Homo sapiens: one gene and its partners. The protein of the gene in region 2 purifies or fractionates together with the protein of the main gene of each other region. This does not show direct contact. Each region holds a gene or a part of one and is shown on either strand. Other genes may lie near its edges.

What was found.
Region 1: the proteins of RACK1 (region 2) and ZCCHC3 purify together in Homo sapiens (affinity purification with mass spectrometry; 4 studies listed by BioGRID and IntAct, with this or other methods). This does not show direct contact.
Region 3: the proteins of RACK1 (region 2) and LARP4 purify together in Homo sapiens (affinity purification with mass spectrometry; 5 studies listed by BioGRID and IntAct, with this or other methods). This does not show direct contact.
Region 4: the proteins of RACK1 (region 2) and TNRC6C purify together in Homo sapiens (affinity purification with mass spectrometry; 5 studies listed by BioGRID and IntAct, with this or other methods). This does not show direct contact.

The regions. Positions count from the first base shown.
Region 1 is NC_000020.11:292,565-300,570, forward strand, and holds ZCCHC3 (zinc finger CCHC domain-containing protein 3), read left to right. Parts: upstream 1-5,005; 5' UTR 5,006-5,022; coding exon 5,023-6,234; 3' UTR 6,235-7,757; downstream 7,758-8,006.
Region 2 is NC_000005.10:181,240,907-181,247,858, forward strand, and holds the start of RACK1 (small ribosomal subunit protein RACK1), read right to left. Parts: upstream 3,001-6,952; 5' UTR 2,895-3,000; coding exon 2,786-2,894; intron 2,471-2,785; exon of another isoform or gene 2,408-2,470; intron 1,440-2,407; coding exon 1,268-1,439; intron 984-1,267; exon of another isoform or gene 912-983; intron 734-911; coding exon 586-733; intron 1-585. UniProt on the Homo sapiens protein: Scaffolding protein involved in the recruitment, assembly and/or regulation of a variety of signaling molecules. Interacts with a wide variety of proteins and plays a role in many cellular processes.
Region 3 is NC_000012.12:50,396,120-50,403,886, reverse strand, and holds the start of LARP4 (la-related protein 4), read right to left. Parts: upstream 3,003-7,767; 5' UTR 2,877-3,002; coding exon 2,859-2,876; intron 2,739-2,858; exon of another isoform or gene 2,606-2,738; intron 2,481-2,605; exon of another isoform or gene 2,408-2,480; intron 1,213-2,407; exon of another isoform or gene 1,116-1,212; coding exon of another isoform or gene 1,074-1,115; intron 1-1,073. Other genes in the region: protein FAM186A, read left to right, coding at 7,403-7,594. UniProt on the Homo sapiens protein: RNA binding protein that binds to the poly-A tract of mRNA molecules. Associates with the 40S ribosomal subunit and with polysomes. Plays a role in the regulation of mRNA translation.
Region 4 is NC_000017.11:77,954,173-77,961,703, forward strand, and holds the start of TNRC6C (trinucleotide repeat-containing gene 6C protein), read left to right. Parts: upstream 1-4,530; 5' UTR 4,531-5,096; intron 5,097-7,531. UniProt on the Homo sapiens protein: Plays a role in RNA-mediated gene silencing by micro-RNAs (miRNAs). Required for miRNA-dependent translational repression of complementary mRNAs by argonaute family proteins.

The DNA of each region.
Region 1 (8,006 bases), on a different chromosome or scaffold from region 2:
GCCGAGGCAGATGGATCACCTGAGGTCAGAAGTTCGAGACCAGCCTGGCCAACATGATGAAACCCCATCTCTACTAAAAATACAAAATAGGATTAGCCAGGCGTGGTGGCGGGTGCCTGTAATCCCAGCTACTTGGGAGGCTGAGGCAGGAGAATTACTTGAAGCAGGGAGGCTGATGTTGCAGTGAGCCAAGATCACGCCACTGCACTCCAACCTGGACAACAATAATGAAACTCCATCTCAAAAAAAAAAAAAAGTAAAAGATAGGAATACATGACAGATCCAGGTAGTGACTTACTCAACAGCCATTCCTCCCCATCATCGCAACTATTGGATCCTGATCTTGTCCATGTATGCACTTGCCTTAATGGAGGCAGGCCCCAGGTCCAGCCCTAGTCCTAGTCCCAGCTCCAATAGTCATGACTGTCTGAGGCTGGACTTGGTGAGCCAATTTCCCTTTCCAGTTAGAGGTCTAGTCATAGATACATGATGAAAGTCTGGCTAAGAAGACAGGATGAGAAATCTACTCAAAGGCTTTTGGGAAAGGTTTTCATCACACTTTTAAAAAAAGGCATTGCAGAAAAACATTCCTTCATCTGCTGGTAGACATTGTCATATCTGTGTGGGATTCCTGGAATCGCGGAACTGTGAGGGGAGTTGGCCAAAGAGGATATACAGTGAATGGTAGAGAGGAAAATGTAAAAACCTTCTTCCTTGATAGCACTGTTGAGCCATTAAATTAACCAACCCTAGCCTGGCACAATAGTATGTGCCTGTAATACCAGCTACTTGGGAAGCTGACGCAGGAGCATCGCTTGAGGCCAGGCATTTGAGATCAGTCTGGGCAACATAGTGAGACCACATCTCAGAAAAAAAAAATTTTGTTTTAATTAGCCAGATGTGATGATGTGCACCTGTAGTCTCAGCTACTTGGGAGGCTGTGGTGGGAGGATTGCTTGAGCCCATGAGTTTGAGACTGCAGTGAGCTATGATTGTGCCACTGCACGCCAGTCTGGGCAACAGAGTAAGATTCTGTCTCTAAAAGAAATTAATTAATTAAATTAACCTTTCACCTATCTAGAAAATACTTGAGATTAAATAAGAAATCACATTACTGGGTGAGCAAATTTGAGTTGAGTTTTCTGGTACTTGCAGACCAAAAGCATTTTACTGAACCCTACGTCTGGAGGAACAACAAGATAGAAGGAACCTGGGTGGGTCCCTGACAACCTTGCAGGAGAAAGTCACCTACCTGTCCTTACTGCCTGCCAAATTCCGAGCTGCTTCATCAAAGAGAAATAAACCTCCACCTTGTCTGAGACCCTGTATTTGAGAGTCCCTTTGTTACAGTAGCTTAACCTGTACCTTGATTAATACAAAGAAGAGCTTGGCCACTGTCAGACAGCCTTCCTCATCAGACATGCTGACCCAGCATGGACACCCACTGAGAGCTGCCTGTGCCCCACATCTCAGGTACTTAACCAGTAATATTACTGCCTCCCACTTCAATTTTTTTTTGTTTTTGAGACAGAGTTTCGCTCTTGTTGCCCAGACTGGAGTGCAATGGCATGATCTTGGCTCACCACAACCTCTGCCTCCCGGGTTCAAGTGATTCTCCTGCCTCAGCCTCTCGAGTAGCTGGGACTACAGGCATGCGCCACCACAACCGGCTAATTTTGTATTTTTAGTTGAGACGGGGTTTCTCTATGTTGCTCAAGCTGGTCTCGAACTCCTAACTTCAGGTGACCCGCCCGCCTTGGCCTCCCAAAGTGCTGGGATTACAGGTGTGAGCCACCGCACCTGGCCCCACTTCAAATTTTTAAAAAAAATACATAAAAACATTTGCAAAAATGCTGCCATCTTAATCAAAGCCAAAACACACTTGAGGGGCCACTGACAATCACCTGTAACAAAGCTGTTGGAACTGGGATTGAATCAGATGGGGTCCATTTGCACTTACACCTGTTCAGGTGGCATTTCTGTGTTCACGAACACCTGATGGAACTTCCTGCCCCCAGGATAGGTGGGCAAGATGAGCTGGCCTTTCCTCCCTGCACATGTGAGGTGATAAATGTGATAGAGGGCCTCTCAGGCCTGCTTGGCTCCAGGCTCAGCAATGGCAACCTGGGCTCTGATTCCATCAACATCTTGCTGAGAGGTGGACTAGGCTGAGCAGGCAGTCTCGGGCTTCCATCCATGTCATTTGATGTGCTGGCTTTGTGGCAAATGTGCACAGCATCCTAAACCCACAATCCCTACTGTTGTCACTGGGTAAGATGCCGTGGTTCTTGTGGAGACACCTGCTATACTCGACATAACAAGATCCTAGACATTCCTTCTTATCATCTGCACAGCCCTCCAGAGCTGCTCTCTCCATACGGCCTCAGTGCCCATCCGGACTGCTCTCCTTGCAGGGTACCTGCCTGGCCCCTGTAGCTCCTGATGTAATAATCTCTGCAAAATTTGACCTGGAAAAAATGAAACTGACCAAAAGGATGGCCCTACACATACCAATGAAATTGTACAACAGAAGAAGATATGATTAGCAAAATTGGACATGGAGCCAGAACCTAATCCACAAGTCAAATATTTTCAAAATACAGACAGATGCCTTTAAAGTCCAACACAAAACAAAAATGCTCAAAATACGTTGATTATATGAGAGTTCCTGACTAGTGCAGTAAGACAAGAAAAAGTATAAGATTTGAAAAAAGAGACAAAACCTTCATTATTCACAGACGATATGATTGGCAATACAGAAAAGTAAAGAGATTCCAAAAACCACTGGAAATTTTTTAAGGTTTCAACTTTGTTGCCAGATATGGGGTCAGTACACAAAATTCAATCGTGTTTCCTCTAACGGACACCAACAAACCATATGTAACTTCTGATTTACAATAATTTCACTTACAATAGCAGTCAAACCACGTGGTACTTTGGAATAAATCCCCAAAAGTATGTAAGACCTTTATGAAGAAAACTATAATATTTTATTGAAATTCATAAAATAAGGCCTAAATAAGTGAGAAATCAAGTGGGGTCATTGATGGAAAGACTCCGTGTTATAAAGTGGTAATTCTGTACAAATGCAGTGCAACGCCAATTAAGATCTCATAGTTTCCTGGAACTTAGTAGGCAGGTTGTGAAATTTATATGGAGGTTCCAAATATAGCTGAGACCATCTTAAAGAAGACGAAAGAGAGAGAAGAATGTTTCCCATAAAAGAAGAAACTGGAGTTCAGATTTCTCTTTGGAAACTGAAAGATCCCCCCACAGTGGACCCTCACTTCTGGAGAGGAATATTCAGCTACAGTTGACTAGCAGTTGCCCCTTCAGATAGAATATTCGATCTCCAGTTCACCCAGTATATCTTCTACTTAAGGCACCTGCCTGACCCTTGCAGATATTTGATTATGTGATAGTTACCTGGAGTGAGGGCTTAAGATAAGAGGAATGGAAGAGATTGTTTAAAATACATCTATTGTTTGGTTGTGTAAGTATTCTCCTCATGGTGAAACTTGACCAGGCAAGTAGAAAGAATAACAGAGAAGTATGTGAATCTAAGACATTGATGTTTCTGGTAATGGTGAAGTTCCGAGTATGATCACGGGAATGCGTGGCTGAGAAGGGATAAAGGAAATGGTGCCTGAGGATATAAAGTGAGAGGACTGGAAAGTGCAAACGGCCCAAGTCAGTGGCTCCCCTGAGACCAATACCAGCAGTTGGGATGAAGGGAATCTGCCTGTTAACAAGGTTTCCTAGGATCTGATGCACAGTTCTTGATCCACGGCGTCAGAAATAAAGTGGTTAAATAAATATAAGCTACCGGCCGGGCGCGGTGGCTCACGCCTGTAACCCCAGCACTTTGGGAGGCCGAGGCGGGCGATCACGAGGTCAGGAGATCGAGACCATCCTGGCTAACACGGTGAAATCCCGTCTCTACTAAAAATACAAAAAATTAGCCAGGCGTGGTGGCGGGCGCCTGTAGTCCCAGCTACTCAGGAGGCCGAGGCAGGAGAATGGCGTGAACCCGGGAGGCGGAGCCTGCAGTGAGCCGAGATTGAGCCACTGCACTCCAGCCTGGGCGACAGACCAAGAGTCCGTCTCAAAAAAGAAAGAAAGAAAGAAATATAAGCTACCTATACGTGGGGCTGCCTATTAACTCCGCCAAGTGACTTAACTCCTGCCTCTTTATCTGTAAAATGGGCATAATTACAGCATTGTTTTTGGAAGATTCCATGTAATAAAGTCTGAAGTGTGCTTAACACAGTACTGGGAACTTAAGCAGCACTCACACTTCATCCTAAATACGACGAAAGTCTTTTCAAAAAAATAAAAATTAATGCAATATGACTTACTTGGAAATGTATCAAAAAATAAAGACCGATGAATGGATCGAGGCGTAGTGTGACAGAGTAAAATTTTAATGATAAAAAGTTAATGGTAAAATGTTCACTGTAAAACTTTCAACTTTTCTTCTTGAAAACGTGCATAATCCGACGTGGGAAAAAAAATAACGCATTGCAGTCAGTTCTGGGGAAACGGAAAGCTAAGTTTTAATTTTGCTATTGCTTTTGCTTTTTTAACAGAAAAGGTACAAAAAAGAAAAAATGGGAGAGATGTTGCCGAACTCCGTCCCGCCTGTGGGCTGTGGGCCGTTAGCAAAGCTGCTAGCATGAAATCGTCGAGCACCGCTTGCGAAACGCCAAATCCTCGAGAGCGAGGCCGGAGGCTGCCAAACCCGCGCTGGGGAAAGGGCCGCCTCCGGGCGCCCCATCCCGCTGCGGACGGAGGTGAGGTTGGAGCGAGCGCTGGCGGAAGAGAGGCTCAGCGCAGGGGGCGCAGAGCCGGCGCTGGCCAATATGCGCCGCATGTGATACCTTTGAGGGCGCGGCGGGGGAGGGTAGCGTCAAATTTCAAAAAAAAAAAAAAACCAAACCCACACAGCCCCGGCGGGCGGGCGCGCGCGATGGGCGCCCTTTGGCTGCGGGAGCGAGTGGAGGATGCTGGGAAGGAGGTAAAATGGCCACCGGCGGCGGCGCGGAGGAAGAGAGGAAACGGGGGCGGCCGCAGCTTCTGCCCCCCGCGCGGCCCGCGGCCCGGGGCGAGGAGGCCGACGGCGGCCGCGAGAAGATGGGCTGGGCCCAGGTGGTGAAGAATCTAGCCGAGAAGAAGGGCGAATTCCGCGAGCCGCGGCCGCCGCGGCGGGAGGAGGAAAGCGGCGGCGGTGGAGGGAGCGCCGGGCTCGGCGGCCCCGCGGGCCTGGCGGCGCCGGACCTCGGCGACTTCCCACCGGCTGGCCGCGGGGATCCGAAGGGCCGTCGGAGAGATCCGGCCGGCGAGGCGGTGGACCCCCGCAAAAAGAAGGGCGCTGCGGAGGCGGGCAGGAGGAAGAAGGCCGAGGCGGCGGCGGCCGCCATGGCGACCCCGGCCAGGCCCGGCGAGGCCGAGGACGCGGCCGAGCGGCCCCTCCAGGATGAGCCGGCGGCGGCGGCAGGCCCGGGCAAGGGTCGCTTCCTCGTCCGCATCTGTTTCCAGGGAGACGAGGGCGCCTGCCCGACCCGGGACTTCGTGGTAGGAGCGCTTATCCTGCGCTCCATCGGCATGGACCCGAGCGACATCTACGCGGTCATCCAGATCCCGGGCAGCCGCGAATTCGACGTGAGCTTCCGCTCAGCGGAGAAGCTGGCCCTGTTCCTACGCGTCTACGAGGAGAAGCGGGAGCAGGAGGACTGCTGGGAGAACTTTGTGGTGCTGGGGCGGAGCAAGTCCAGCTTGAAGACGCTCTTCATCCTCTTCCGGAACGAGACGGTGGACGTGGAGGACATTGTGACTTGGCTCAAGCGCCACTGCGACGTGCTGGCCGTGCCGGTGAAAGTGACCGACAGGTTTGGGATCTGGACCGGGGAGTACAAATGCGAGATCGAGCTGCGCCAGGGGGAGGGCGGGGTCAGGCACTTGCCAGGGGCCTTCTTCCTGGGGGCCGAGAGGGGCTACAGCTGGTACAAGGGGCAGCCCAAGACATGCTTTAAATGTGGTTCCCGGACCCACATGAGCGGCAGCTGCACGCAGGACAGGTGCTTCAGGTGCGGGGAGGAGGGGCACCTGAGCCCTTACTGCCGGAAGGGCATCGTGTGCAACCTCTGTGGCAAGCGAGGACACGCCTTTGCCCAGTGTCCCAAAGCAGTGCACAATTCCGTGGCAGCTCAGCTAACCGGCGTGGCCGGGCACTAAACACCCGCCTGCCTGCCAGGGTGAACACACAGCCAGCTTATCCCTCTTAAGTGCCAAAACTTTTTTTTAAACCATTTTTTATCGTTTTTGAAGGAGATCTTTTTAAAACCTACAAGAGACATCTCTCTATGCCTTCTTAAACCGAGTTTACTCCATTTCAGCCTGTTCTGAATTGGTGACTCTGTCACCAATAACGACTGCGGAGAACTGTAGCGTGCAGATGTGTTGCCCCTCCCTTTTAAAATTTTATTTTCGTTTTTCTATTGGGTATTTGTTTTGTTTCTTGTACTTTTTCTCTCTCTCCTTGCCCCCCTCCCGCCCTCCCCGCCCCATACCTTTTCTTCCCCTGGATTTTCACCCTTTGGGCTGCCTTGCTCATCTTTATGCCCCAGCACTAGGTACGGGGCCCAACACGTGGTAGGCACTCCATCAGTGTTTGCTGAATTGAAAACATTGTTGACTGTGGCTTCTATCAGAGTGTCTACCTTTTGCAGCTCTTCCCCTCCCTCATTTAATTTGCTGCTTTTAATCTACGTGGTCTGAGAATTTGTGAAACCAGTGTTGTTAGAAGTGTATATAATCTGAATCAATAAGCTCTGAATGGTGGCCAAGGGCCTCTCTTATGGCACAAAGATGCATGGACTTCATGACAGCTCTTTTGGTGGCTCAGAAGCCATTTTTTATAGAATCATGGAATCTAGAATATTCCTGCTGGAAAGAACCTGAGAGTTGGTTTGGACCAATTCCCTGGTTTTCCAGCAGATGAAACAGGCCCAAAGAGGTTAAATGACTGGGTGAAAATCACATAGCTGTCTGGTGCCAGAGCCAGCCTATAGTAGAGTCCCCTGACCCCAAGCCCGGTGCTCATTCCACTACCTCTCACACTTCACAACAATTTCCTCAACACTTGAGGGCCCAGAAAGTCTGATCTCTCCAGAATGATCAGCCCAGAGGAATGCTGAGAAATCACCTGGAGGAGGGAGCAGAAAGAGAAGGTTTTTAAGGAGGGGCTTCTGAATACTTGGGAGATACGGAACGGACCAAGGACCACACTCCAGGGTGCATTCGTTGCTCCCTGGGGCACCACTTCTGGATTACAGTGTGCCAGGTCCTTTGGAGGCCCTACCCCTTCCCCATTCATTGCCACCAGTGAGAAATGGGGGTGCCCCTGTGTAAAGAAACCTACCAAAGGTTTACATTTGCACCTTAGCCTCAATAGCTACGAACCCTAGAGAAGCAGCTAGCTGGAGCTCATGTGCAACTCCTGATTCTCAGGAGAAAGATGGATTTTAACCCAAAATTATGAGTGAGCTGTTAACTCTAAAATGTACTTGGGAGATAGGCCAAGCGAGAGGTCATGGGCCAACTAAGTGTTATCCAGTAGAAAAGACAGTACACTGCTTTTCTTTTAGTGTTTGCTTTTCCTTTGCTATATGTTTTGCTATTTCCTTGTGGCTTAGAATGTAAAATTGATTGTTAAAAGTTTTGTTCTGAATAAATATTTATCTTTTGTATTGCTAAAACTGGTGCACTATTTCCTTTCAAAGTGTTAGATGCACAGTTACCCAGCTCCAGACCGTATTTCAATCCCACTTCCCCTACACTCCATTTGTTTACCTTGCTAAATACATTTCCCACCCCTGCAGGCAACACTTAGCACCTACTACGTTGTGCCGGTCCCTTTGCATCACAATCAGCACACTGTTAAAACGGGTTTTAAGTCCTAACACAGTTCCAATAAATCAGAATCACTGTTAGAGGAAGTGAAACAT
Region 2 (6,952 bases):
TCACCTGAGGTTGGGAGTTCAAGACCAGCCTGACCAACATGGAGAAACCCTGTCTCTACTAAAAATACAAAACCGGGCATGGTGGCGCATGCCTCTAATCCCAGCTACTTGGGAGGCTGAGGCAGGAGAACTGCTTGAACCCAGGAGGCGGAGGTTGTGGTCAGCCGAGATCACGCCATTGTACTTCAGCCTGGGGAACAAGCGAAACTGTCTCCGAGAAAAAAAAAAAAAAAGGCAAAGATAGGCAGGTGGGGGCTCACGCCTGTAATCCCAACACTTTGGGAGGGCGAGGCAGGCAAATCGCCTGAGCCCAGGAGTTTGAGACCACCCTGGGCAACATGGTGAAACCCTGTCTCTACTAAAACACAAAAAATTAGCTAGGCGTGGTGGCTGCGCACCTGTAGTACCAGCTACTCGGGAGACTGAGGCACCAGAATCCCTTGAGCCCGGGAGGCAGAGGTTGCAGTGAGCCGAGACTGCGCCACTGCACTCCAGCTTGGGCAAGAGTGAGACTGTCGCCAAAAAAAAAAAAAAAAAGCAAAGTTTAAGAGGGTGGAAGAGATCCTTGGAGATGGCTCACTTTACCTGGACAGTGTATTTGCACACACCCAGGGTATTCCATAGCTTGATGGTTTTATCTCGAGATCCAGAGACAATCTGCCGGTTGTCAGAGGAGAAGGCCACACTCAGCACATCCTTGGTATGGCCCACAAATCGCCTCGTGGTGGTGCCCCTGAGAGGGAGGAGTTTGTCATTCTCAGACTTAGCAAACACTCTCATTCAACGGTCAGACTCATTTCCTGGGCTTTGTCTCTGTCTCATTGCATCACTCATACAACCCTGGATTTGGCTCTGATCACAGAGTCAAGTGACTGAGTATATGAAAGAGAAGAGCCAAGTGACAGAGAATCCCTTCAGAATTGCAGGACATGTCCTCACTCCCACTTGGGGATTGGCTGACAATGCCATCTGTCATCACCAGGACCCTCTAATTCCACCTGCCAATTACCTGAGCTTTCAAGGTAAAACATGTTCAAACTGCTGCCCACTCAGAACTTTTGCACCTGGCAAAAATGTTCAGCCACACTCCTCAGCAATGCTGAGTAACTTATTTAAAGTGAGGGAGGCCAAACATCTTCTGTAGGTGTGCTCTGCTTTCCAGTTCCCAAATGGACTGGATCTCCCCTGGGAAACCAGCCAATTGCATCCACCTCACTTCTGCCCAGATTCTTCCCAAGGCCCCAGAGCTAAGTGAGCAGCTACTTGCGTTGTGAGATCCCAGAGGCGCAGGGTTCCATCCCAGGAGCCTGAGAGGGCAAACTGGCCATCTGAGGAGATAACCACATCACTAACAAAGTGGGAGTGACCCCGCAGAGCACGCTGTGGAATTCCATAGTTGGTCTCATCCCTGGTCAGTTTCCACATGATGATGGTCTTATCTAAAGGAGGTAAAACAGAAGAAAAATCAGTGAGGAACCCGCAGCCCGTTTAACACACTGGATAATTCACTAAGTGTCAAGGTCATGAGTGGGTTAACAACAACTAAGGACGCTTAAGGAGGGATGGAAACAACAGACAAGAGCAGTTACAGACCAGGACTGAGTGGCTCTATTCCAGACTAAAAACGCACGTAGAGGTAAACTGTACCCTGATAACTTTTTTTTTTCTTGAGATGGAGTCTCGCTCTGTCGCCCAGGCTGGAGTGCAGTGGCATGATCTCGGCTCACTCCAAACTCCACCTCCCGTGTTCAAGCAATTCTCCCGCCTCAGCCTCCCAAGTAGCTGGGATTACTTGGCCAGCTGGCACCTGCCAGCACGTCTGGCTAATTTTTTAACTAGAGATGCGGTTTCACCATTGGCCAGGCTAGTCTCTAACTCCTGATCTCAAGTGATCCACTCGCCTCTGCCTTCCAAAGTGCTGGGATTATAGGCGTGAGCCACCGCGCCCAGCCTGTATCCTGAGAACTTAATTTAGGTGCCAGAAATACAGACACCCTTTCCTGAAACTCAGACGAACTCAACAGCCACTTTGTGTCTTCTCTGCAACCAAATGCACAGCAGTTTGTGGCTGTAGAGTAGCTGGGGCCTCCTATGCCTACCTCTGAGGGCCGACAGAAATGTAGTAATGAATGCTGGAAAAGCCACTTCAGGCGCTACAGGATTGGATGCTTTTACTGAAACCTGTCCCACTCAACAAATTTTACGATTAACAGCCAGACATGATTCAAAAGTCAGACAATTCTTAACAGTGTAGCAGCAAAGCGGAAGCACAAGAAGCGTCTAAACGCAGTCAGGAACACAGGGATAGGGACGGGGAGAACCAGGGGCAGAAAAAGTAGGCCGACACTTGAGCCACGAGGTCCTCTGGAGTCCACCTGCCTCCCCACGAGCCTTGGGCCGGGCGGCAGCTCAGAAACAGCCTCTGGATTTCAGCACCGACACTCAGATGGCATGTTGGGGTCATCACCGCCCCGCCCGGCCCGTAGGCCCCCGGCCACACTACGAAGGAGAAGGCAAAAGATATTTTAAAAGTTTCCAACTCTCCAACCCTCCTAGCAGCTGCGAGCTGATGTACACGTAGGTTCTCATCTGCAATGTGGTTCGCCCGGGTTGAGGCCTAGGCTCGGGTCCGCACGCCCCAATTCACAATGGGGCAGAGAAGTCTGTCAGTCCCCGCCAACTCGCGCGCCACCGGCCTGCCACACCACACGCGGAATTCCCTACACGACACGCGGAATCCCCCAGCCCTGCAATCTCGGGTCCTGAAATCTACCTTAGTCCGTACCTCGAGAGGCGGAGAGGATCATGTCCGGGAACTGCGGGGTAGTAGCGATCTGGGTTACCCAGCCGTTGTGGCCCTTGAGGGTGCCACGAAGGGTCATCTGCTCAGTCATGGCGGCGGCGAGAGCGTGTGTCGCTGCAGCGACGAGGATGGCACTGGATGGCTTAGAGAAACTAGCACCACAACCTCTCCTGCCGCCGCCTTGCAGTGAAAGAGAGAGAGAAAAGCCCCCCGCCGGAACCGGAAATACCCGCTCGACCATGCAAAATGGCGAGCCCCATGATACATTTCTGCTCAAGATGGCGGCGCCATGTAATGCAAAAGGCAGAGGGAAATTGCAAGGCATCACAGTCCCGTCTTCCGTACAACAAAATCTGACTGCACTTTACAAATACACTCTGAAACAAGCACATTCAAGTGTTTAAAAAGGCTTCTCAGGGATGATGTAGAGCGAGAAGCGAAAGAGGTGAAGTGTACGGCACATTCCCATGAGGACCGCCGGGCTGCTTCCCCGCCCCTATGTGGCATAGCTCGAGCTCCGCCTGTTCCACTTGGTGCGGGGAGGGTTGACGGGGCAACCCCAGGGGAGCTTAATTTTCATTTCACTATCGTGGGTAACGATGGGCAATTTAAAAAGTAGAGTATTAAAATGTTAAAAATAAACTTTAAAACTGTGCTTCCGGAGGGTGTTCTCCCCTCACGAGGTTTTTGTTCTGATGCACACCAACTCCGGAAGGACTTAGTCCAGGCTGGACTAAGGCAGGAGAGGGTTACTCTGGATGAACTAAGAATTGGTCTCTTTTTCCCGGGCGCGGTGGCTCATGCCTGTAATCCTACCACTTTGAGAGGCCGAGGCGGGTGGATCACTTAAGGTCAGGAGTTCAAGACTAGCCTGGCCAACATGATGCAACCTCTTTCCAAATAAATAAATAAAAAAAATTAAAATTAGCCAGGCGTGGTGGGGGGTGCCTGTAATCCCAGTTACTCGGGAGGCTGAGGCAGGAGAATCCCTTGAACCTGAGAGGCGGAGGTTGCAGTGAACCGAGATCGCGCCACTGCACTCCAGCCTGGGCAGCAGAGCGAGACTCCGACTCAAATAAATAAATACATACATACAATAAAATAATAAAGTAAAAATTGCCCTGTGTGTTGCTAGACTGCCAATCCGTTCCTGCCTAGGCCAGAACACGGGAAGCTCTCGCAGAAACGGAAATGCCCAAAGGAGGACCTTAAGGTTCTGACTTCTGGGGACATCTAGTGGAAAGCTCTCTCTGGGCCCAGCCAGCGTACACAAAAGCCCAGGGGTCTGGGGGTCCAACTGTGCCCTGAAGGACGTGCCCAGACAGGGAAGCGGTGGAACACGGATACCTAACTGTCCTTCTGCCTTCCGCTCGACCGCAGGAATTTAAATAAGTAATGGCTCCCATTCTCACCCATCTCTGACTATAAGAGACAGTGTTGGCACCATGTCTATTCAAGTAGTTTTAAACAGGGGCACAGATCAGGATGATAGCAGCCACCAACATCTATGCAAAATAAAGGGGGCATTATACCTAAGTATATACTTTTCTATTTGTGACATCTATCAACTTTCGTTTCTCATCTGTGAAATGAGATTGGAAATAATATTAGTATCTACATTACATGGTGGTGTGGAAAGTGAAGAAGCAAATGTAAAGCGCCCTGAACAAGGCAGAGTAAATGTTGTGAAACTTAGCACCTCTTGGGTGCCAGGCCTTATTTTAGGTCTTGGGGACACAGCTGTGAACAAGACAGAGGGGGGACCCTGGTTTGTTTTATTTGCAGTTTACTTCCTACGGTATGCGAAGAGGGGAGAACATTGGAACAGAGACACGGAGAGAGCCCTGCGGGTATATGGGAGAATAATGTTCCTGTGGAGGGAAGTCAAATGGGGGAAAAATATTTCAATCGGAGGGAAGAGTTAGTGCCAACGTACTGAGCTGGAGTGTGGAGGGGCTGAGGACAGAGCAGGGAAATGGAGGGTGCAGTTAACCTAGGGCCTTGAAGGCCTGGAGAAGAACCTTGGCAATGTCTGCTAGAAAGCCTGCGTAAAGGCAGAAGACAGGCGAGGGAGGGTGGCAGAGCTGCCGGAGGCTGTAGACGCCCAGGTGTGCAGGGAAGGCCAGGATCCCTCCCTGAAACAGCTTGCTCTCCTGGTCCTCTGCAGGTTCCCCTGCCTTCCGCCGCAGTCTCCCTTGGGCTTTCCGGGACGTTGTCCTGGCTGTGGTCCTCCGCAGCCTGTGGACCATCCTAAGGCTCCAGGTTTGTATACATCACCTGCCTCCTTGGCACCCCCAGCTGACTGTTCTTTCGCTTTTCCAATACGGGACTCAATCCCTACCCAGGTGATTGTGGTGGTCGTGGAAGACCGCTGCCTTCACCCTCCCGCTAACCAGCTTGCTGCCCCCCACTCGGGTCATGCCAGCGCCTCCCTGAGCCCTCGGGCACAAATAGGTGAACGACCACACCCGCCTCCCGCTGTGGACTGAGATTCGCGGTGCGAGGGGTTCCCGGGTTGAGGACCTAAAACGCCGAGGAGTTCCAATTTGTCCTCGAGAACACGGGGTTTCTCCATTCGCGGCCGTCAACAGCACTAGATCACAGTTACATTTTTTTTCCTTTCGCGAAACCTCATTCGGTTCTCTTTTTCTTAAACGTTCCACAGGGAGTCCAGGTCCCCACCCACGCCCAAGGGAAAGGCCTTGCCGCGCCGCGGGTCACTGTCCCGGAAGCGGGAGGTTGCCACGTCCGGCCCCACCCTGCCCCGCCCCCTTTCCCGCTCCGCTCCGGGGCCGCCCTCTTTCCCTGCCTCGCGACACCCAGACCGAGACCTCGGGAATGCTCCGGCCCCCTGCCGCCGTCTCCCGGCCCGGTTCTCTTTCACTAAAAATAGGCGATTCTGGCAGCGCCCCTCCTATGGGGCCTTGGGGGCAATTGGGGTTTTGTCTTAGAGCCCGTGTGGACCCGGATGGCGACGGCAGCCCGAGGAGAGGGAGGGCTGACTGTATGGTTGGCTTTCCGACGACCAGACCCTGCAGGATTCGGCCTTTCCCTTTGGAGTTTTCCTCCATCCCCCTCCGTCCCTCCCAGGGGATGCCCGCAGGCCACAGTGGTCACTGAAGGTCAACCCTGAGCCGAAGGAGAAGTGGCCTCGACCCTGGGGACCCCTTCAGGTGCAGCTTGAGGGGGAACGGCCGCCTTTCCCGTTGGGCACCCAGCTGTGGCTGTGCCCTGTCCTCGCCCAGCTCCCGGCATAGGCATGCGCTCTGGGCCGGGGCCGGGGCCCCCCGCCTCCCCGGGAGGAATCGCTGGGTTGACTCTGGGTCAGCAAAGGGAGCCCGGCCCTTTCTAGCGGGGGGACGTCCTGCAGCCGCTGGAGGAGGCTGAGTCACGCTTTTCCCACCAGAAGTCTACCTGTGCCTGCGCCCGCCGGACCTGCCGGCCTCTTCCTTCTCATCCAGGGGGCCTCTTCTCCAGCCTCACGGAGGTGGGAAGCTTGCTGGAGGCCCCTACCTGCCTTTTGGGGAAGACCCCGAGGCTGGCCCACGCCCTGCTGGCAGGACCCTTCCTGACTGGGTCCACCGTTCTTCTGGGTCTCACCACTTCTCCCAGCCCCTGGGCTGCTTCCTCTCTCCCGTGTCTGGGACCCCAGAGGCACCACTTCCATTCCATACAAGGTAAGAGTCCCAAGGAGAGGCCGGGCACGGTGGCTCACGCCTGTAATCCCAGCACTTTGGGAGGCCGAGGCGGGCGGATCACGAGGTCAGGAGATCGAGACCATCCTGGCTAACACGGTGAAACCCCGTCTCTACTAAAAATACAAAAAATTAGGGCGTGGTGGCGGGCGCCTGTAGTCCCAGCTACTCGGGAGGCTGAGGCAGGAGAATGGCGTGAACCCGGGAGGCGGAGCTTGCAGTGAGCCGAGATGGCGCCACTGCACTCCAGCCTGGGCGACAGAGAGAGACTCCGTCTCAAAAAAAAAAAAAAAAAAGTCCCAAGGAGAAATTGGAGAGGCTCTCCTATGAAAATCCATCTCACCATTCCTTTTCTGAGGAGTCCACAGGACCTGTACAGTTGGAACCAGCCCCTCAGGCTTCCCTGCCAGAGCCCTTTTCTCCAGGAGCAGAGGCATCCATCCCCTCCTGCCAG
Region 3 (7,767 bases), on a different chromosome or scaffold from region 2:
AAGATGTACAGATATCTATATATGCAAAAACATCAAACGTTCCTGACACAAAGCACGATACAAGTATATACTACTACTGTTGTTATTGTTATATTGCTATTATCTATCCTACTGATTCTAGTGGGATAGTTAAGCTGGAATCTCTCCAGAAAAATACACATAAGTAAAAGGTATTGAACACAACTGCAGAGGACCCAGGGATCCCAGATTAACCCTGCCAAAGATGATCCACAAGCAAGTTGGTTTAGTAAAGCAGTTCTTAACCTCTTCTGTGACACAGACCTCTTTAGTAGTCCAATTAATCTATGGATCTCTTCTCCGTTTTTTTACATTTCTAAAATATATAGGATCACAAAGTAAACCAATTATATTGAAACGCAGTTATCAAAATATTTTAAAATGTCTAATATAGCAATACGTTAACAATATTTTTGACATATAGCAAGTAATGAGCATAAATATTTCAAGATAACTGCAAAAGCTGTAATACATGTAAAAAAGTGATTTGTCTTGGTGACAAGGTCACATACACTGTTGCTGCCATTAACATTTAAAGAATTTTCACTTCTTTTCCATTTAGATTTCAGTTAGAAGCTAGAGAAAATAAACACGCAAATTTTTTTCCTCAACCAAGCTTAGGTACTTACTTCCTCAATTCTATCCAAAAACCTAGATTAAGAACCTTTGACTTATGGGAAAGTACAAAAATAATTTTGAAGCCAGAAATTTATGTTCTAGAAGTCAGACTTCAGACTTTAGCCCCCACATTATTTACACTTGAATGACCTTAGACATCTAACTTCTGAGCTTTGGTTCTCTCACTGAGAATAATTCCTCTATCATGAGGTTACAGGGATCAAATATTAGTTAACAAAACGCCAAACGACCAACATGTTGTTTTTCACTGATTTTAATACCACATATTCAGCCCCAAATATTTAAAGACAGTTAATTTTCAATAAAACTCATATGAGAAAATGAAGAATGACATAGTGACTCACAAAGAAAATGATTAATGGAGATACAACTTTTAAACACTAGTTTGGCGAGAGATACGATAGAATTTGTCTAACCTGGGGAGTCGGACAGGCCTGAATTGCTAACATCCCGTCCATGATTTGACATCAGCATGACCTGGATCTAAATCCCAGTTAAACTACTTTACTTTTACTAAGTAAAGTTACTTTAACCTCTGGGGCTCGGTTTTGTCATCTGTAAAACATATTAAGTATCGCTTTAGAGACAGGAGAAGACCTAGTTTAAACAATAAATGGAGCTGTTATTAAAACTTACATTTTAATAAAGCCAAAGGAATCAATTTGGAAGTCAAAAGTATATTGTGGAGTTCCTGTCAATATAAACTTCACAATCTTTCTTCTGCCCAGCAAAACACACACTTAAAACCTGTGGTATTTACATAGCATAACATTCCTTAAAAAAACTGGCTGGCACTGGCTTAAAATCTTATCTGATTTCTTATTCTGCCTAAGGAAAACAACAATGAGGACAGAAAACAGTAAACAGAATGAGTTCAGTAATTTTAAGTCTTTTCATGATTTCCCCGGAATGTTCCAATGAATGTTTATTATGAATGTTAGATACACTCTAATGTAGCAGTCTTTTAAAAAACTAATTTAAAGATATCAAGCTTATCGGCGACACAATATCAGTTAGTTTAAAGAGAAAAAAAAACCGTAAAATCATTTATTTACTTTATGCTGGAATATTACGGAGTAAGATTTTCCCACAACCCGGAAAAAAAAATCTGCCATAGGCTGGCCCCGGCTCCTAGATTCATTATACAACCCGTAAATTCCTTCCCTCATTGAAAAGATTCTTCTTATGGGCATAGTTAACAAATGCCAAGTTGCGAAGTTGCAGCTTTGCTGGTTTGACGTTTTCACAATGTAAGAACAATATGATCTGGAATCTACTCAAAGCATTAGCCAGGCAGTCAGCTGACGCTCACTGCACACAAGAGGACAGAATTAAGGGAAATTAAATTTCGTATTTCTGTAAGGCAGGTATCCAACTCTATCTTGAAAACTAAAATAGGCCAACAGCAGACGTTCTAGTTTAAGTAATAAAAGTGTCTCATTGTTCAAATAACATTACAAAAAACGGCTTTTCCCGGAATAAGTTTCCCTCATTCTTGGAATTTTCCTTGTAAAGGGCTTTTAATCGGTTCATAGAACCAACCCTTCATCACGCAGCTGCTGCTTGAGTAACTTTTACAAAAGGTCAAAGCGGTGCCTTTCAAGGCTTCCAAACCCTACTGGCTTCTCCTCGATTCAAAGTAACTCGCTTTCACCCACAGAACGTTCCAGAGACCTAGGGACGGGGCCCGGGCAGAATTTGGTGGAAGTTGCTCAAAAGAACTTTTCAATTTTCTTTTCAAAATACTTACCGCATTTCACCTTTCTCCATCCGTGGCCCCACATGTTGCTCGCCTCCCTCCCAGAGGGGCCCCGCGAGGCCGCGCTCGGCCCCCGGAACGCGCCCACCTGATTACCCTCTCCTCCCTCAGACTCCGCCCCCCAACCCCCCAATGCTGCCTCCTTTAGGAGGTCCATATGGGACACTTTCCCCTTCCTCTGAACCTCACCGCCACACCAGAACAGCCCTCCGTTTTTCTCCTTCAATTCTTCTCCACTACGGGCCTCACCTCCCATAGCTTCCTAGAGTGTTGTGAGCGCGCAGAGGGAAGCTGCAGGCCTGCTCGGCCCAGGTGCTGTGTCAGCCTATCTGCCGGTTCCGCGGCGTGTACGGCCCGGAAAGTCACATGGCGGTGGGACCGGCCGGCGCCTCTACACTCCTGCTCTCCTAAGAGCAGGACGAGACTAGCATAATGCACTCACCTCCACGAAAAGCAACATGTCGTCCTCTGCTCAGCCCAATCGTTCCCGCCGCCGCAACTCCAACTGGCTCACAGGCCCGCGCCCCAATTGCTAGGATAAGGACACACACTCGCCTTGCCCCTCCACCCGGCAGTGGACCCGGCTCCTCCCCTGCCGTCAGCCGCTGCGGCCTGACCCGCCCAGTCCCACCTCCCTTGAAACAACAACTGCTTCCGGGTCTAGGGAAAAATTGTTTCCGGGAGAAAAGAGAGCCCTCGGCGCGCTCAACTTTTGCACTATCTTTTCCAGCAGCAGTGTGGGATGTACTATCATCTGTCGGGGGGAACGATTAGAAGGAGACGCCATTCTGTGGCACGGGGATGTGTAAAAATCGTAATGACACATTTTATCACTTGTCAGATAGCTACACAGCACTGATAATTCCGCAGTTTTCATAGTTCACAATCTAGATTTGATTTTTAAAGCCGACCTTGGCGAAGTGTACTGAACAAACCAACCCTGCCGAAAAGTGGTGGCTCACAGAAGAAAAGTAGACAAGAAAAAAAAAACAAAAAACTATGATACTAGCAAATATGTTAATAGCAGCTAATGTATATTAAATGCTTACATTGTGTTTGGCACTATACTAAGCATTTTATGTTAATTGATCTTAAAACAATTCTATGCAATAAACACTATTATTATCATCCCCATTTTACAGTTGAAGAAGCCCTCTAGGAGGTCGGGTTTCCCTTTAAAGAACTTTGCCCCAGGCTCATTTGAATTAATTACCCATGTCACCGCTTAATATACCAGTAATAACACTTAATCTGGACAGTGTCTTCTTTGACGTTCTGTCATTAATTCAAACGAAATACAATAAAAACAAAATTTTTAAAATTATCTATAATTTTTGTTAGATGGTCCAAATTCCTTATTGTCTTTAGCAATATGTAGTAGGATAGATCGCTCCCACTTGTATGTCCTAGTTCAAACACTCATCTTTTGAAATAATCATGTCTTGGCTGGGAAGGGTGGCTCACGCCTATAATCCCAGCAATTTGGAAAGCTGAGGCGGGCGGATCACTTGCGGTCGGGAGTTCAAGACCAGCCTGGCCAACATGGTAAAACCCCATCTCTACTAAAAATACAAAAATTAGCCAAGTGTGGTGGTGCACACCTGTAATCCCAGCTACTCGGGAGGCTGAGGCAGGCGAATCGCTTAAACCCAGGAGGTGGAGTTAATAGTGAGCCAACATCGCGCCACTGCACTCCAGCCTGGGTGACAGAGTGAGACTCTGTCTCAAATATAGTAATAATAATAGTAACGAATAAAAATTGGCCGGACACCGTGGCTCACGCCTGTAATTCTAGCACTTTGGGAGGCCGAGGCGGGTGGATTGCCTTAGCTCAGGAGTTCAAGACCAGCCTGGGCAACATGGTGAAATGCCATCTCTAGTAAAATACAAAAAATTAGCCAGGCATGGCAGTGTGTGCCTGTAGTCCCAGCTACGTGGGAGGCTGAGGCAGGAGAATTGCTAGAACCTGGGAGGCAGAGGTTGCAGTGAGCCAAGATCACGCCACTGCACTCAAGCCTGGGTGACAGAGTGTGACTCTGTCTCTAAAAAATAATAATAATAAATAAAAATGAAATAATCATGTCTTGATCTTTTCCAATGGATTTTTCCATTCTATTATTTAAAAAATCTTCCCAAAGTGAAGGTTTCATTTTCACCAAACCACTGTTACTTGATTTCAAGACTTTGCCATTCTGATCTCATGAAATCCTCCTTGCTTTGCCGCAAATGGAATCTCCTCAGATACCAAATTAATTCCACCACCAAATTGCTGATATCTGTTATCTCAGGCCCACCCTAATGTGGTCCTCAGTAAATTCCCGTGAAGTCATCTCAGTGATTAAACCAATCTCCTTACTTTCCCCCTAAGATGCAAACTCATTAGCACTCACCGCCAAAGCCATGGCTCAAGGTGTTGCCCCTACCTGGATTGCCTCCATTTGTCAATCAACCTTCTCTCTCCATAAGGTTTTCTCAAAGATTCTGCTTCTACAGATCTCTTCTTCGTGTCCCTTATTAGCACTTGATTATTATATTCTATCTTAAATCTTTTCTTTTTTGTTTTAGTTTCTTCACAGGAACCCTATCATATATTCTTCAGTTTAGGATAATGTAAGCTGCATAGTGTTTCAACAAATGCTTGTCGAATTGAAAGGGAAGCAGGATTTAAAAATTGACTTTAAGAAGCCTTCATGGCCAGGCGTGGTGGCTCATGGCTGTAATCCCAGCACTTTGGGAGGCCACGAGGTCAGGAGATCGAGACTGTCCTGGCAAACACGGTGAAACTCTTTCTCTACTAAAAATACAAAAAATTAGCCGGGCGTGGTGGTGGGCGCCTGTAGTCCCAGCTACTTGGGAGGCTGAGGCAGGAGAATGGCGTGAACCTGGGAGGCGGAGCTTGCAGTGAGCCTAGATCGTGCCTCTGCACTCCAGCCTGGGTGACAGAGTGAGATTTTGTCTCAAAGAAAAGCCTTCATGTCTAGTTGCTGATTGATGAATTCCATGCTGCATAAAAGATGCAAGTGAGAGAGAAAGAATAATGCAAATTTAGTTTAGTTGACAACTAAACTTTGGGAGGCCGAGGTGAGTGAATCACTTGAGGAGTTTGAGACCAGCCTGGCCAACACAGTGAAACCCTATATCTACCAAAAATATAAAAAATTAGCCAGGTGTAGGCCGAGTGCAGTGGCTCACACCTGTAATCTCAGCACTTTGGGAGGCCAAGGCATGCAGATCACGAGGTCAGGAGATCGAGACCATCCTGGCTAACATGGTGAAACCCCGTCTCTACTAAAAAATACAAAAAACTAGCCGGGTGTGGTGGCGGGCGCCTGTAGTCCCAGCTACTCGGGAGGCTGAGGCAGGAGAATGGAGCAAACCTGGGAGGCGGAGCTTGCAGTGAGCCGAGATCATGCCACTGCACTCCAGCCTGGGCCACAGGCGAGATTCCGTCTCAAAAAAAAAAAAAAAAAAAATTAGCCAGGTGTGGTGGCGCATGCCTGTAATCCCAGCTACTCGGGAGGCTGAGGTAGAAGAATCGTTTGAACCTGGGAGGCAGAGGTTACAGTCTGCTGAGATGGCACTACTACACTCCAGCCTGGACAACAGAGTGAGACTCTGCCTCAAAAAAAAAAAAAGAAAGAAAGAAAGGAAGGAAGGAAGGAAGGAAGGAAGGAAGGAAGGAAGGAAGGAAGGAAGGAGAAAGAAAGAAAGAAAGAAAAAACAATACATACACCTGTAGTAAAACTATGTAAAAATAGATAACACAAATATGTAAAATTCATGATTGTCATTTCCTCTGGAATGGGACAGTGGGGAAGGAAGGAACCAGGGGTGGGGGACATCAAAGAGGACTTCAACCTTCTGTAATGCTTTTTTATTATTAAAAAAATTGGAAGCAAATATTAAACAAAAATTAGCCAGGCGTGGTGGCGCGCACCTGTAATTCCAGCTACTCAGGGAGGCTGAGGCACAAGAATCTCTTGAACCTGGGAGGCAGAGGTTGCCATGAACCAAGATCACACCACTGCACTCCAGCCTGGGTAACAAAGTGAGACTCTGTCTCCAAAAAAAAGGGAAAGAAAAGAAAAGAAAAGAAAAAAGAGTAAGCAGTGCAAAGAGTGTGATCCTCATCCAAATGATATCATCCAAGTTACTTCATCCAAATGATATCATCCAAGTTACTACATGTCTAGGAAAAGTTAAGGGGCAGCTGAGGAAGTAGTTGTAACCTTTATTCCATTACAGGCTTAAAAATACTTAAGCAAAACCCCAGGAAGAGAGAAGAACCAGGAGTTATATTTGACACACCTAGATTTTTTTTTTTTTTTTTTTGAGACAGTTTCACTCTTGTTGCCCAGGCTGGAGTGCAATGACGTGATCTCGGCTCACCACAACCTCCGCCTCCCGGGTTCAAGTGATTCTCCTGCCTCAGCCTCCCAAGTAGCTGGGACTACACGCATGTGCCACCTCACATGGCTAATTTTGTATTTTTTTTTTTTTAGTAGAGACGGGGTTTCTCCATGTTGGTCAGGCTGGTCTCGAACTCCGACCTCTGGTGATCCACCTGCCTCGGCCTCCCAAAGTGCTGGGATTACAGGCATGAGCCACTGCACCCGGCCAACACATCTAGATTTTAAGCTTATTTAAGCAGGGCTATATCTTCTGTTTATTTTAGCATTCCTGTTGTCTATTATTTCCTACCCTCCTTCCCCCCTCACCCTTCTACCATGGCAGCATATAGAATGACCAGTTCTCTGCACATAGTAAGCATTCTTTACATGTTTGATCAATGATAATGTCACAATGGGTCTATTGTGACATCAACAGGACGGGAATATCATGGGAGCCACCAATTAGTAGCAGAGTATGCCACAACTTCTAGGATCAGGAAAGACCTCTCCTAGCTTCCTACTGGATATCTTTATTAGCATTTTTGTAGATTCTGTGAAAAAGAAGAAATAAAACGAAATCACCCACATTTTCAAAATGTTCTTCAAAATGAAAAATGAGATAGACAATGACCCTGAATCAGAAAAATGCATCAAGGATTCCACCATCATGAGAAGAGAGCCCCAAAATATCCTTAGTCCTTTGATGCTCCCTAACCTTGAGATCCCATTCTCAGTAAAGGATATCATCTCTAGGATTGAGCGCGCACAGCTCCATCGAGCCAGAGAGGTAGGTAGTGAATCTGAAGTTTACAGACTGCAATTTTCTTTTTAAACTTTCTGTGACCAAGTACATTTTTGTTTATTTTAGAAATCACTTTCATGATATTTGACTGTATTTAGGGTAGCTTTGACTTCAAATGACAATTTCACCTGACACCGACTGTGGATATAACAAGCTCC
Region 4 (7,531 bases), on a different chromosome or scaffold from region 2:
GCGCACCTGTAGCCCCAGCTACTTGGGAGGCTGAGTTAGGAGAATTGCTTGAACCCGGGAGGCAGAGGTTGCAGTGAGCCAAGATTGTGCCATTGCACTCCAGCCTGAGTGACAGAGCACGACTCCATCTCCAAAAAACAAAGATAATAATAATAATCTGGCCTCTGCTCATCTCTCCCATCTCCTCTTACCTGGGCTGTTGCAGCCCCACTAATGTCTTCCAGCCCCCTGAAAGTGCTGCGCTGCAAGCTCTCTTGGGTTTCCTTTACACTGACCTTTCCCTCTTTCTTCAGTGCCCTTCCATCAGCTTCTGACCTATTACTGCTTTCCCTTGCATCTTTCAAGACTCAGATCTGAGGCCCTTGGAGAAGTCTTCCTGAGCCCTTCAGAATGACCTGAGTCTCTTCTGTCTCCTGCAGCACCTCCATGCATTGTAATCATAGCTCAAGCACGGCTTGCAGCTTTAAATCCCTGGCACCTAGTTCGCTGCCTGGCACGTAATACACGGCAATTCAGCAAGTATCTCTAACTCAGTGAGGAGTACAAAGGAGAAGTCAGAGGCCCAGAAACTTGCCTAAGGTCAAACAATTAGTGAGCAGTGGAGTTGAGACTCACCCTTACTTTTATTGTAAGGTTCTAGTCTCTATTCCAATATTATTATCAGCATAGTGGGAGGACAAAGGCATCAGAATCACTTGGGGAGCTGATTAGACATGCAGATACATGGGCCTCATCTGGACCTAAGGTGAATTTGTAATTCAAACAAGCTACCCTGGCGATTCTCATCAACAGAAAGTTTGAGAACCGACGCCCTGTGCCTTGCTGCTTGTCTGAAAGGCCTCTGTAAATTTATCACATTTTTCTAAGTCAGTTCAGTTGCTATCTATCGGTGACAAGCAGGGAGAGCTGAGCCCGGCTTTCTTACATTTTCATTGAAAAGCAATCATTTGTTGGAGTCCTGAAGGTTTTCCCTTTAAGAGTCCATCATTAGGATGCAAATTATACGTGTAAAATCAACAGAAATAGGAGGATGGAGTAATTCAGGCACCAGTGTGTGGTAGGAAGTGACTGGGCATGGAGAGGGGTATTATACGCAAATACAGCCCTCAAAAAGGTGTCTTTATTACTCTCCTCCAATTTTCATCGCCTCAGAATCATCTGGAGGGCTGGCTAAGATGGAGATACCTGGGCCCCATCCCCAGAGGTTTCGATTCACTGGGTCTGGCAATGGGGTCTGAGAAGTTGCCCTTCTAACAAGCTCCTAGGTAAAGCCAATGCCGCTGGTCTGGGGGAACACACTTTGGGAAACCCTGAGCTAGTCAACACAGTAATCTGTTTTGCAATAGTCATGGAGATAGGGACGTGATCATCCTGTCTTTCCACTTAAACCCCTGCACAGATGTGGATCTTGCTACCTTTCTAAATGGAGTTTCTTTTTCTTCCCATAGCTTGTTGGAGTACAGGTGGTATTTGGTTACATGAGTAAGTTCTTTAGCGGTGATTTGTGAGATTTTGGTGCACACATCACCTGAGCAGTATATACTGCACCCTACGAAATGGAGTTTCTATTAATAACTCCATTTGATAGAAACTCCATTTTGTAGGGTGCAGTGTATATTTGAACTAATTTGCCTAATATCTACCACCCACTGATCTCAGGTTGGCTTCTCAGGATTTCAAAGAATATATCTGTACCTATTTGCATACAGGAGTTTCAAAAATATCTGAAAAGAGCCATCCTGGCCTGCTTGTCTCTTCTTCCCTGCACCAATCTCTTCTGCTTCTTCAGCTGTTGGTCAGACTGGAGGATTTCCATCAACAACTGGCTGTATTCTGAGTCAGTCTCTAACTTTGTCGATTTCTTTCTTGCACCCTGGTGCTCAGAACTGGCCAAAACACTCCATTTGGGATCTGACCAGCTCAGAGTGCAATCTCTTAAACTGGACACTATTTTAACGTAGTGTTGTTGTCGTCTTCAAGCAGTTCACACATTTAGCCTTGTTGAACGTGTGGTCATCTATAACTAGAATTTTTTACATTACCTTGTATCCAGCTAAGTCTTCTTCATTTGTCCTCAACTAGTTGACATTTTAATTTAAGAGACACATTTAACATTTAGTCCTCTTAAACGTAATTTTGTTGGTTTTACCCTTTTTTTTTTTGAGACAGAATCTAGCTCTGTCATCCAGACTGGAGTGCATTGGCGCCTTCTCTGCTCACTGCAACCTCTGCCTCCCAGGTTCAAGGGATTCTCCTGCCTCAACCTCCCAGGTAGCTGAGACTACAGGCGCCCGCCACCATGCCTGGCTAATTTTTTGTATTTTTAGTAGAGATGTCACCATGTTAGCCAGCATGGTCTCCATCTCCTGACCTCCTGATCCGTCTGCCTTGGCCTCCCAAAGTGCTGGGATTACAGGCGTGAGCCACCATGCCCAGCCCTATAGATGATCAACTTATACCTTAGTTATAAGGTGGTGGTGGCAGGGCTGATAACAGGATGACCAACCCGAAACATGAACGTACCCATTTTTACAGTTGTGCCTGGGGTTCCTACTCATACTTTATCAGTTCAAACAACCACTAATAAGTGACACTGCTCTGCAGTCTTAACATTCATGGCCACCATATGCCTCAATGTTTCTGGGTCAACTTTAGTTTCAAACATTATCTCTACTGTCACAGGTCCACATGCCAAACTATGAGTCCAGTTTGGGGTTCAGAACATATAGTCTCTATAGTTCTGCCTTTTCTCGGTGCTCAGAGTCTAATATCATTGGAGAAGAGGACGATTTTTGCCTGATTAAACTGAGGGAGGGGGATAAGAAAGGGAACCAAAGACAATGCTAAATAATGTATTTTGGTTCAATTTTCCAAAAAGTGAAGCTCTGCTTATCACAATGATTGGTCCACTCTGGTCCACCCAGATACCTGGATTCCTCATTTATGTAGCAGCAGTCTACTTCGTGGGCGCTGCCTATTTTGAAGATGTTATTTTGCACTCCCTTCTGGAGCATGTGATAATACCTCTACCTTTGAGAAATACAAAAGATGTAGGTTCTCTGCAGTCGAGAATTAAATGAACGTAAATAAAATGAATAGACAAGGCAGAAGCCTCCATGTCAGCTCCCTCTGCCTTCAGATCCTTCTAAGGGATGTGGGTTCTCGGGAGGGGAAATACACAACACGATACAACAGACATTTGACGACCCTTTAGAGGCTGGTTGTGAATCTGACTACCGGAGGGCTTAAAATATGGCAGTAAGAAGAAAGGAGCTCATGGGACCCTGAAGGGAAACGAGAGCGGGGAATTTGTCTCTTTCATCCACAGTCGTTTCAAAGCATGACACTTGCGGTAACAAAATTGCATTGCGAAAGTACTAGTGTGTTATTATCTCCTCTTCAAGACAGGGACACGTAGACAGGGAATGGCCTCTTCCAATACCAACTTCCAAGTAGCACTGCTGATCCTCCACTGAACGATGGGGGAAAAGCTAGCCTGCTTCTGCGACCTTGCATGAAAATGGAGAAAATTCTTGGTTTCAAAATCTTCTCCTGGCTTGAACCGAAAGTTAAAAAGGGACTTTTCGAATTGCACATTGCGCCTGACCTTACCTACCACTAATGAATAATGGATATCGAGGAGCCGTGGAATGGAGGATCACGGCGGCGTACGGAGCACCGGGGAGGAATCGTGGGGTGCGTAGGCGCCGGAGCGCCCGGGTTCGGCCCGGACCGAAGGCTTGCGCGGTGAAGGTGTGGTGTCTGTGCTCCGGGGAAAGGGCTGTCTCCCCGGGGGACTGTTTCGCAGCGAGGCTTGTTTTGCTCGCAGCTGGGCGCTCCCTGGGGAGCGACTGAGCGCAAGGGCGGGCCGGGAGGCGCGAGGCGAGCACGATGCTCCAGGGCCCCAAGGACTCGTGTGCGTGTGCGTGTGCAAAGTGGGGCGGTGCAGGGCGTGTGCACGGCACGGGCGAGACGCGCGCCGGTGCGGGCGCCGGGCGCCGCCGGGCGCAATTACAGCATAAAGCCCGGGCGCCGCGGGGCGCTGGCCCGGAGAACCCACCGGACGCGCAGAACCGGATCGGCACCCCTCCCGCCAGCACCCTAACGCGGAGCCACAGCGCCCAGGGACCGGAGGGCAGGCGGCGGCGGTAAAGGACACCACGCAAGTCTCCACGTAACCCCCCCGAGCAGTGCAAGCTCCCAGGACTGGCGCGCGTCCCGGCCACTCGGAGCGCGCACCGCTCGCACCCCGGCGCGCTCCCCGCGCGGTGCAGGGAACCACAGCGCGGGCGGGTATTAAGGGGAAAGGAGGAGGCGTGGCCTGGCCGAGGAGCCAATGGGCCGGGAGGGGCGCGCGGGGGAGGAGCTCAGGTGCAGAGTGCCGATTGGCCAGTTCGCCCTCCGGTATGCAGATACGGTGGGAGTCACGTGCTAGGGGCCGGGACGACTTCCTGTTGGAGGCCAACGCGGGGCGGGGAAGGGGGCGCGAGCGCCCCGTCTGGCTGAAGCGGGGGGAGGGGGGTTCTTGTCAGTTAGAGCAACAAGATGGCCGCGGTGGCAGCTCCGCACCTCAGCGCGACGGCCCCGGGAGCCGTAGCCGCCGCCGCCGGCCCCGCCGCCGCGCAGTCTTGAGCGCCGCCCGGGCCGCCCCCTGACAGGGCAGTCCCAGCGCCCGCCGCGCTCCCGCCGCCGTCACCGTCGCAGTAGCCGCGGGCCCGCCCGAGCCGGAGGCGGAGGGAGCGGAGCGGCCCCGCGCCCAGCCGTCCGCAGCTGCCACCGCCGCCGCCGCCGCCGCCTAGGACCCGGACCCCGCCGGAGCCGCATCCCGCCGGGCGTGAGGAGGAGGACGCGTCGCGGCGTTGCCGGGGCCGGACCTGGACCTGCCGGGACGCGCCGCCGCCCACTCGCCCGCGCCGCCGCCGCAGCCGCCGCCGCCGCCCGCGCCGGGACCTGAGTCCGTGGCGCCGGCGCTGAGCGGGCCCCCGCCGCCCGCGCACTCCCGAGGCCCTCGGGCGGTTGTTCGTGCCGCCGCCGCCGCCAGGCCCGCGCCACCGGAGCCCCGCGGAGCCGCCGCCGCCGCCGGGGACGGAGCCCAGGTGAGCGCGGCAGTCCGCCCGCTCCTCGCCGCAGCCGCAACTTTGCCGGGAGGTTCGCGGGCCCTTTGTTCGGCCGAGCCGAGCCGGGGCGGGCGCTGGCCCCTAGCGACCCGCGTGCGGCGCCAGGCCCCGGGCCGGCCGGGTTTGAGGGGAGCGGCGGGAAGCGGCCGGGGCCGGGGCGCGTGTGTGCTAGTGTGAGACGGGGCTGTGCAGACGCCCGGTGTGCATCACAATCAAACGGGAGTGGAATGGAGGGCTGAAGATGGATGTGCCCCCTCCCTTTTAAAACTCATGCAGCGGTGAAATTCGGTCCTTTCCGGGCAGCCCCCCGCAGATTTTGCACTGGTGATGGCAGGCGCGAACCCGCCGTGTTTTGGTGCAGGAGCCCGGTGCCGTTGTTTGGGGGAAGAGAAAAACCCGGGGCGTGCTGCGGGTGGGCGGAGAAGGACCCCTGGGCGCTCTGCGGCTCTGAAATCAGGTGGATTTTCTAACGGTGCTGCGGACTGCGGAGTAATGCGTATGAGGAAAACGAGCCGTACAACATCTGTCCTGTTATCAGATAACGTAACCCGAGCGCCTGGTTGCCGCCTCTGCTTTAAGCGGTGCCTCCTTTGCACCTTTACCTTGAGGACGAGATTTAATTAATTGATTCGTAGCTATGAAAATGTGCAGATGTGGATGTGGGGGTTCCCTGCCTGTTAACCTGGGGAAGAAATAACTGGCAAGCATGTTACACGGAGCTTTGGGGATCTTAGCAAAAATGAAGGCTTGCTGCTTGGATGTTGTGCCGGGAGGTAGGGGAGGAGGAGCCGCTAGATCGTGGCTGCACCTATTGCATTCGAAGGCATTTGACGGTATTGGTGATTCTGCACGTAATTAGTGGAGTTGTCTCAAACCTTTGCCTCCGCCAAATGAAACCTCCATTTGAGTGGTCCGCTCGGTTATTTCTAGGCGTGAACTGCGGATTCTAAACTCAAAATGGTGCTCTGTAGATGTCCAACTTCAGCGTCTTTAAGGAGTTGCAAGTTGGAGCCTTCTGACTGGGTTAATCCATTGTGTAGCCGAGGTTCGGTTTTTCTCGAGTGTCTGGTGTTCACGTTGACGTACTTCGGCCAGTACAAGGTAGCCAATTTATGGTGATCGCTGTGAGAGCCTCGTACGTCCCTGAATGTAATTTGAGCCTGCATAAGGCCTACTTTATGCAAGTGATTTCCTGCAGTTGGAATTGAATAACTATGCGAATGAGTTGAGACCCTGGAAACCTGGCTTGAGTGATTTCAGAGGACAGTGGTAGCTGGTTTGAAATGTGTAGGGGGTGTTGGCAATGATATTCATAGATTCCGGATTTCCTTCAGTACTGTATGAAAGAATAAATGATAAAACTTAGCCCCAGGCCAGATGAACTTGGTTAGTAGAGGGCACCTTGAAGAAATTTACATTGTTCCAGAACAGCAGAGGTGGCAATGGTCTTTGAGCATGTTTCACTGTAGCACCCCTAGGATGCTTTGTTGGGGGAAATAATGCAAAACAGGGTTTTTAAAATGACTAGTTCAGTTGTCGGAATTAATTTTGTGTGTATTAATAGAACAAAGTAATGATGTGAACAGTTGTAACTTTACCTATACTGAAAGTTTTTTTTCTACAGAAAGTTTTTAATATTTATTTTCATAAGAATAGACATTCTTGGAAGCTGTTTTTCATACAGATTTCTCATGACCTGACCATAGGCATAGTCAGGCCGTGAGAAATTGATAGCTCAGAAAACGGTAATAGTAAACACACACACACACTCGTTTTTATTATAAGGATCTGATTTTAAAAGCTTGTTTGTAACTCTTCTGTGCTTCTTGTCCAAAACAAAGACCTTGCTGACCTTACCTCGGTTTTACTTTTTTTTTTTTTTTTTGAGACAGTTTCGTTCTTGTTGCCCAGGCTGGAGTGCAATGGCACGATCTCGGGTCACTGCAACCTCCGCCTCCCGGGTTCAAGCGATTCTCTTGCCTCACCCTCCCGAGTAGCAGGGATTACAGGTGCCCGCCGCCACGCCCGGCTAATTTTTGTATTTTTAGTAGAGACGGGGTTTTGCCATGTTGGCCAGGCTGGTCTCGAACTCCTGACTTCAGGTGATCCGCCTGTCTCGGCCTCCCAAAGTGCTGGGATTACAGGCGTGAGCCACCACGCTCGGCCGGTTTTACTTTTAAGGTATGAAATTAAATACGGTTGATACTGAGACTGTCTGTCATAAGGTTTAATCTTAACAATTTCATTTCGGATTCTGCCATTTAAATATTCTGGTAGTAACCTGGAGTATATGTAAGTGTTGGTTTTAGATTTTCGTCCTTCGTGTTTATTGCGGGGGGCGAGGGTGGGTTTCGAGTAGCATATGTCTTAACACTAACATCATTTCGAAACAGGTTTACATTTATATTTAGTTG